Regions from separate parts of the Homo sapiens genome. Here regions 2 and 3 are each linked to region 1. The links come from fine-mapping of genetic effects on gene expression. A gene starts in region 1. Each other region holds a variant in brackets. All regions are shown on one strand. Distances are between the middles of the regions.

Region 1 (2,843 bases):
ACTCCTAGCAGTCAAGGGCTCAGGGCTGCACTTCTGGCTACTACCCTATATCTGAATTTGCCCACCAAGCAGACAGGTTTTAAGTCTGGACTGTTTCCTTCTCAGTGTTGTTATGAAGGCTTAAGCTCTGCATTAAGTTTCTACAAGTTCCACAGCATCAGGTCATATGGTTTTCCTCAGGGTCAATGTTAATGTGTGCTGAACTGGCTGGAGGACTGCCAGGCCCTGTGAGAAGCCTACGTTCATTCATCCATGTCCTTGGAGTCCTAACATCAGCCTTAGCAAGTAGGTCCTGTTTTTGTCTCCACTTTTCAGATAAGGAAAGTGATGCCTAAAGAGACAAAATTCTCTGTCCATGGTCATAGCCTGGATTTGAACCAGGGTCTTGGGACTCTTGGAGTTTGTAGGCTTACCCCAATATATGCCTGCCTCTAAAGTCATGGCCACTAATTTCCTGTGGGCTGAGTTGTGTGTTTCAGAGGAGGGTCTAAGAAACACTGACTTCTTTCAGTGTGCTGTGGGGTCTGTGTGTAACTGGGACCCTAGATTTACCCCTGAGGCTGGCATACAGCCCTGCCCTGTCCCCGCTAACAAAAGTGGACTTGCTGGGGCAGACCAAAGGCCTGGGTCAGACCAGGAGGCCACCTTACAAACCCCAAGGCTGGCAAAAATGGGCGGCCTGTGCCTCTGGCCTGGTGTACCTAAAATGGAGAGAGATGAGGGTTCCAGGAGAACCAGAGAGGGAGGAATGAAATTCCTCCAAGGAGCCCAGGGTGGCATGTCCGACTGTGTGACACGTAGACAGGGCCTCCGCAGGGAGCCACGCGCTACCCCCAGGTCCAGCCGGCTGTCTTCTTATAATACCCACCAGCCTTTTTCCCTGCCCACCAGCCGCTGAAAACTCCCACCCCCTCCAAAAAAAAGTTCTATTCCCTCTTCTCTGACCACAAAGGCACTGAAAACAGTGGAACCAGAAGGGGAGTCAGGGTGGGTGGAAAGGTACGGGGTCCAGGCTGATAGACCATCCCAGGGTTCTTAAGCAGCAGGGACCACCCCCTTCCCCCCAACACTGTAGATCAGAACACCCCTCTCCATCAGGTCATTACATACAGCCCTGGTAACTACACAAGGCAGTTCACCTTGATTATCGAGTCCTTTCCGGGATGTGGAGAGCTTGTGAGAAAGAAATGGGATCCTTTGAGAAGTGAGGGTTTGGAAGTGGGGGCAGGAGGGTATCTTTGGGGAGATGGGTGTCTGGGAGGCCCCAGGGGTGCTGTCTAGGGTTAGAGTATTGGGATGCAGAGCTTAAAAGAGGCAACAAGGAAACAGGACCCCGGGTTCAGGGGACGGAGTGGTGAATCCGGGGGCGCCCAACCGGGGTTACCTTGAATCAAACTTCTTGCCATCTTCAAAAGTGCCGTTGTAGTGGTAGCGCACAAAATCCCCCATCTGCACTTCCCGGGGACAGGCCCTGGGGATGTGGTACCTCTCGATGACCACATCTTCCAGGGGGCCCCCGGCCGGGCTGGCGCGGCCCAGCCCCCTCCCCACGGCCTGCACCACCAGTAGCAGCAACTGCAGCAGGGGGAGCCGGAGGAGGCTGTGGCTGGGGGGGCCCGCGGGGAACATGGTGCCTGGAGTTGGGACCGCCGGCAGTGAGGGCGAGCGAGGGAGTCGCCACCAACCTCCTTCCCCCCGCCTCCCAGAACTGGCTCCCCCTCTTCCTGTCCTCTTTCCCTACCCCCGCCCTGGCTGGTCCACGTGGAATGGGGGCTGGGAAGACTGAGCTGGCCTGGCCGGGAGGAGCGGGGGAGGGGGTTGCAATAGGAGGAGGGGGCCAGGCTGAGTGTGTTAGAGTCTGAGGGAGGCACTACAAAGAACTCTAGGTTCCCCCTCCCCCCATCTCCATCCCTGGCTGCGAGACCTGGGGCCTGGCCAGGGAGAGAGGCTCGGGAAAGATGAGAACTCTGAGTGGACACCAAAGGAAAAAAAAAAAAAAAAGTTCAATGACTTTTTCCGGAGCCCCCGGGTCCTAAAGCCGGGCGGAGATGAACCTTGCTTCTTTCGCGGGCACTTCGAATTCTAGTCCCCTCCAGGTGGGTGGTGAAGCCGCGGAGTGTGAGAGGCATCTCCGTGCTCATCCGTGACCCCAGCTGTACTCCAAGGGAAGGCATCTCCAGGGAAGAGCAGCTTGGTCCCGCAAAAGCTGGACTGAAAGAAGGACTTTGTGACTTGGGATGTGACGGGCACGGAGATGGAGTGGGGGGTGGTGGCAGCGCAAGGTGTGCAGGTGACAGCAGGTGTGTGCCTCCGACGTGGGCGGGGGAGACACTCGGAGGGTGCAGGAGGGCGCAGCGACGGAAGGCCCGGCTCCAGGGCTTCCTTCTCGTATGGGCAGCGCAGAGGAGGCGGCCCTCACTCAGTGTCCTGATCTCAGGCGGGGGCACTGTTTGCATGGGGAGGGGCTTCCTGGGCTTCCCATCTCTGGCGGGAAGCGCTCCCCGACGCATTCTCTACCTAGGGGACACCCCCAAGGCAGGAGCCCGGGCCGACGGAGAGGACTTAACGACACTATCGGACCCTCTGGGAAAAGAGGGGAGACGTCGTGACCCAGGCCCCGCCCCACCTTGCCGCCTCGTGCCCGGCGCTAAGACCCAGCGGGCGCGCCGCCCGCCCGGGGCCCGGCCCTGTCCCCTTCCGTCCGCGGGGCAGCCAGCTCAGCTCCGGAGAGCCGGCGGCGCGGCGGGCATGGCTCGGGTGGCGTGGGGGCTGCTGTGGTTGCTGCTGGGCAGCGCCGGGGCGCAGTACGAGAAGTACAGCTTCCGGGGCTTCCCGCCCGAGGA
Region 2 (2,843 bases), 54 kb before region 1:
TTGTTTTAAGTGTTTTTTTTTAAACCCCACGGTTCAGCTACACCACTTACTCATGGGGTTGAGTTTCTTTTTCTTTCTTTTTTTTTTTTTTTAATTTTCTTTTTGTGGTTCAGTTTCTACAGAAGAAATGTCATATCCTCTTAATCATTGTTCTTAATCTTTCCTTTCTTACTTTAACCTTTCCCCTTATCTTTATCATTGTTCCTTTGTTCTTAGAAATGATTGCTAGCCCAGGAAAATTTTTTTTTTTTTTTTTGAGACTGAGTCTTGCTCTGTCACCAGGCTGGAGTGCAGTGGCGCGGTCTCAGCTCACTGCAACCTCTGCCTCCCGGGTTCAAGCGATTCTCCTGCCTCAGCCTCCCAAGCAGCTGGGACTACAGGCGCATGCCACCACGCCTGGCTAATTTTTTGTATTTTTAGTAGAGACGGGGTTTCACCATGTTAGCCAGGATGGTCTCGATCTCCCAACCTCGTGATCTGCCCACCTCGGCCTCCCAAAGTGCTGGGATTACAGGCGTGAACCACCGTGCCCGGCCTATTTTTATTATTTATTTTATTTTATTTTTTCCCTTTAAAATTTTGTTTTAATTTAAAGGAAAATAGAATCAGATCCAGCAGCTCCCTTGTACAAAGTCCGCCTCATCTACCTATACAGTGGATTTGGACTAAACTTCCCACTGCTTTGTGTCTACTTTTTTTGTGTGTTAGAAAGATTTCCCTTCCTTAGCCTCTTCCTCTCACCAGGCTTATGAAGCTCTAATAAAAAAGATGTGTTTGCTTCATTTTAGGACACTATCTTGATCAGAAGAGGCTGAAGCAGGGGCTGTATCGTCATCCGTGGGATGATATTTCATATGTTCTTCCGGAACACATGAGCATGTAACAGAGCCAGGAACCCTACTGCAGTAAACTGAAGACAAGATCTCTTCCCCCAAGAAAAAGTGTACAGACAGCTGGCAGTGGAGCCTGCTTTATTTAGCAGGGGCCTGGAATGTAAACAGCCACTGGGGTACAGGCACCGAAGACCAACATCCACAGGCTAACACCCCTTCAGTCCACACAAAGAAGCTTCATATTTTTTTTATAAGCATAGAAATAAAAACCAAGCCAATATTTGTGACTTTGCTCTGCTACCTGCTGTATTTATTATATGGAAGCATCTAAGTACTGTCAGGATGGGGTCTTCCTCATTGTAGGGCGTTAGGATGTTGCTTTCTTTTTCCATTAGTTAAACATTTTTTTCTCCTTTGGAGGAAGGGAATGAAACATTTATGGCCTCAAGATACTATACATTTAAAGCACCCCAATGTCTCTCTTTTTTTTTTTTT[A/TA]CTTCCCTTTCTTCTTCCTTATATAACATGAAGAACATTGTATTAATCTGATTTTTAAAGATCTTTTTGTATGTTACGTGTTAAGGGCTTGTTTGGTATCCCACTGAAATGTTCTGTGTTGCAGACCAGAGTCTGTTTATGTCAGGGGGATGGGGCCATTGCATCCTTAGCCATTGTCACAAAATATGTGGAGTAGTAACTTAATATGTAAAGTTGTAACATACATACATTTAAAATGGAAATGCAGAAAGCTGTGAAATGTCTTGTGTCTTATGTTCTCTGTATTTATGCAGCTGATTTGTCTGTCTGTAACTGAAGTGTGGGTCCAAGGACTCCTAACTACTTTGCATCTGTAATCCACAAAGATTCTGGGCAGCTGCCACCTCAGTCTCTTCTCTGTATTATCATAGTCTGGTTTAAATAAACTATATAGTAACAATGAAGGCATACTGCTGGCTCCTGGCATCCATATCCTTTGATCTGTATTCCTTTGTAACTGTACTTTTTTCCAGACAGGGTATCACTCTGTCGCCCCAGGGCTGGAGTACAGTGGCACCATCACAGCTCACTGCAGCCTCCATCTCCTGGGCTCAAGCAGTCCTCCCACTCCAGCCTCCCAAGTAGCTGGGACTACAGGAGCATGCCACCACTCCAGGCTAACTTTTGTATTTTTTGTGGAGATAAGGTTCTGCTGTATTTCCCAGGCTCTTCTGGAACTCATGGACTCAAGCAATCCATCCTCCTTGGCCTCCCAAAGTGCTGTTACAGGCGTGAGCCACTGTGCCTGGCCTGGCCTGAACTGTACTAATAGTTTCAGTATATATGGTTTTAAAAATGCTCATCTACGGTCAGGCGTGGTGGCTCATGCCTGTAATCCCAGCACTTTGGGAGGCTGAGGCGGGTGGATCACGAGGTCAGCAGATCGAGACCATCCTGGCTAACACGGTGAAACCCCGTCTCTATTAAAAATACAAAAACTTAGCCAGGCATGGTGGCGGGCGCCTGTAGTCCCAGCTACTCCGGAGGCTGAGGCAGGAGAATGGCGTGAACCCGGGAGGCGGAGGTTGCAGTGAGCCGAGACCCGCGCCACTGCACTCCAGCCTGGGCGACAGAGCGAGACTCCGTCTCAAAAAAAAAAAAAAAAAAAAAATTAGCCTGGAGTGGTGGCGGGCGCCTGTAGTCCCAGCTACTCGGGAGGCTGAGGCACAAGAATCGCTTGAACCCGGGCGGCGGAGGTTGCAATAAGCGAAGAGCGCGCCACTGCACTCCAGCCTGGGCGACAGAGCGAGACTCCGTCTCAAAAAAAAAAAAAAAAAAAAAATTAGCCTGGAGTGGTGGCGGGCGCCTGTAGTCCCAGCTACTCGGGAGGCTGAGGCACAAGAATCGCTTGAACCCGGGCAGCGGAGGTTGCAATAAGCGAAGAGCGCGCCACTGCACTCCAGCCTGGGCGACAGAGCGAGACTCCGTCTCAAAAAAAAAAAAAACAAAAAACCCAAAACAAAACAAAAACAAAAA
Region 3 (2,500 bases), 49 kb before region 1:
GTCAGGTAGGGGACACAGGTACAGAGGCTCTGAGGTGGAGCTTGTATGTTAGAGAACAGTGGGGAGCCAGTGTGGCTGTATCAAAGGGATGCAGGATGAGAGGAACAGGAGAAGCCCCAGGATGGTAATGGGCAGGGATCCAGATCCCGTAGGGCCTTGATGGCCTGTGGAAGGACATGAGCTTTTACTCTGATTGAAATGGGAAGGTTTGGGGCAGAGGAATGATGCAGTCTGATTTGATGAATAGTGCTGTGCTGAAAAAAGGATGTGGCGGCCAGGCGCGGTGGCCCACGCCTGTAATCTCAGCACTTTGAGAGGCCGAGGTGGGTGGATGCTTGAGGTCAGGAGTTCGAGACCAGCCTGGCCAACATTGTGAAACCCCTGTCTCTACTAAACGTACAAAAATTAGCCGGGCGTGGTGGTGTGCCTGTAATCCCAGCTGTTGGGGAGGCTGAGACACAAGAATCGCTTGAGCCTGGGAGGTGGGAGGCTGAGGTTGCAGTAAGCTGAGATTGCGCCGCTCTACTCCAGCCTGGCGGACAGAACAAGACTCTGTCTCAAAAAAAAAAAAAAAAAAGAACAAAGGATGTGGCATTGGGGAGGAGGGGGCACCAAGGGCAGACGCAGAGAGACTAGTGTAGGAGGTTGTGGCAGTGGTGGTGGAGGCTTCGATTGAGGAGGGAGAAGTAAAGGTGATGAGAACTGCTCTGGTTCCAGATATATTTTGAAAGTGGATGAGATGAATTTGCTGATGGATTTGACGTGGGGTATAAGGGAAAAGACTGCTACCTTTTTGACCCAAGCAATGGGAAGGATGGAATTATTAAGATGTGGAAGATTGCAGAAGAGCCTGTTTGGGAGTAAGATCAGGAGTTTTTGGATTTGGTTAAGGAGATCCCTGGGAAGTGCATGGGAGCTAGAGATACAGATTGGGGAAAATTACCGTATAAATGGTAACTAAAGCCTTGGGGCTGGATGGTATTACTTAAGGAGTATACATAGAAAAGGGGCAGCGGGGAGAGAGTAGGCAAGACTGAGCCCTGGGGTTCTCTAGAATGTAAAATAGCCGGCTGGGCGAAGTGGCTCACGCCTGTAATCTCAGCA[C/T]TTTGAGAGGCCGAGGCAGATGGATCACTTGACCAGCCTGGCCAACATGATGAAACCCCATCTCCACTAAAAATACAAAAATTAGGCCGGGCGCGGTGGCTCACGCCAGTAATCCTAGCACTTTGGGAGGCCGAGGTGGGCAGATCACGAGGTCAGGAGATCGAGACTATCCTAGCTAACATGATGAAACCCCGTCTCTACTAAAAATACAAAAAAAAAAAAAATTAGCCAGGCATGGTGGCGGGTGCCTGTAGTCCCAGGTACTCAGGAGGCTGAGGCAGGAGAATGGCGTGAACCCAGGAGGCAGAGGTTGCAGTGAGCTGAGGTCGTGCCACTGCACTCCAGCCTAGGCAACAGAGTGAGACTCCATCTCAAAAAAAAAAATAAATAAATACAAAAATACAAAAATTAGCAGGGCGTGGTGGCAGGTGCCTGTAATCCCAACTACTCAGGAGGCTGAGGCAGGAGAATTGCTTGAACCCGGGAGGTGGAGATTGCAGTGAGCTGAGATTACGCCACTGCACCCCAGCCTGGGCAACAGAGTGAGAGACTGGATCTCAAAAAAAAAAAAGAATCTTAAAGAGGAGACTGATCTCATGGAAACGTAGAAAAGAAGGATATCAAGGAGGGAGTAGCCAGTCGTGTCAACTCTGTCAACCCATTAGTGATGGTTGCAGGTCAGAGATGCCATTGACAAGAGCTGTTAAGCCTTGCTTTATAAAGAGGATCAGAAACGTGTAAATGTTTTGGGGGACAATCCCACCAAGGTAAAAGATACTAGAGCATGTCTGTGTGCTGCTGAAAATGATTCAGTAGAAGATGAGTAATTGGTGTTACAGGAGCAGGGGAATAATTGCAGGAGTAAAGTCCTTGCAACCAAGAAGGGAACTGTCGGGATGGAAGAGGGGTGATCCCTTTCCTCCCTCTCATAAAGGGGTCACAGCTGACATTCTTTTTTTTTTTTTTTTTTTTTTTTTGAGACAAGAGTCTCGCTCTGTTTCCCAGGCTGGAGTGCAATGTCGCAATCTCGGCTCACTGCAACCTCTGCCTGCCGGGTTCAAGCGATTTTCCTGCCTCAGCCTCCCAAGTAGCTGAGATTACAGGCATCTGCCAGCACGCTCGGCTAATTTTTGTATTTTTAGTAGAGATGGGGTTTCACTGTATCGGCCAGGCTGGTCTCGAACTCCTGACCCGCCTTGGCCTCCCAAAGTGCTGGGATTACAGGCGTGAGCCACCGCACCTGGCCACAGCTGACATTCTTATAATAAAAGACAGGTTATATAGGACAGAGAAAAGCATAGCAGATTATTACAGGCACATTTGTGCTCGAGAGTCATACAAAATATGAAAACTCTAAGGGTGACTGAAGTTTTTATACCATCCTGTGGTTATAGAA

Alleles and levels. Positions count from the first base shown, and alleles are read on the strand shown. Sizes are in standard deviations (SD) of each study's normalised expression. Not every link is listed here.
With allele A in place of TA in region 2, the expression in lymphoblastoid cells of the gene that starts at base 1,660 in region 1 is lower (moderate effect, 0.64 SD a copy in TwinsUK).

What was found. PIP is the estimated chance that this variant, and not a neighbour inherited with it, causes the effect.
Region 2: its variant is fine-mapped to the expression of FKBP10 in lymphoblastoid cells (TwinsUK, PIP 0.95).
Region 3: its variant is fine-mapped to the expression of FKBP10 in whole blood (TOPMed, PIP above 0.99).

What each region holds. Positions count from the first base shown.
Region 1 is chr17:41,811,821-41,814,663 of GRCh38, reverse strand. It overlaps FKBP10 (FKBP prolyl isomerase 10), which reads right to left and starts at 1,660. Exons shown (of 10, transcript NM_021939.4): 1 at 1,385-1,660. The coding sequence starts at 1,629. P3H4 (prolyl 3-hydroxylase family member 4 (inactive)) reads left to right here and starts at 2,715. Exons shown (of 8, transcript NM_006455.3): 1 at 2,715-2,843. The coding sequence starts at 2,749. RefSeq lists an enhancer at 2,346-2,455 and a silencer at 2,596-2,843.
Region 2 is chr17:41,865,850-41,868,692 of GRCh38, reverse strand. ACLY (ATP citrate lyase) reads left to right here. Exons shown (of 29, transcript NM_001096.3): 29 at 789-1,775. The coding sequence ends at 883. Among named protein-coding and RNA genes, the nearest start is that of KLHL11, 1.8 kb to the right of the region's middle. RefSeq lists enhancers at 2,085-2,585, 2,586-2,843. The variant A/TA (reference allele first, on the strand shown) is at 1,329.
Region 3 is chr17:41,861,268-41,863,767 of GRCh38, reverse strand. The region is part of intron 1 of KLHL11 (kelch like family member 11); the gene reads left to right. Among named protein-coding and RNA genes, the nearest start is that of KLHL11, 2.9 kb to the left of the region's middle. RefSeq lists an enhancer at 1-414. The variant C/T (reference allele first, on the strand shown) is at 1,105.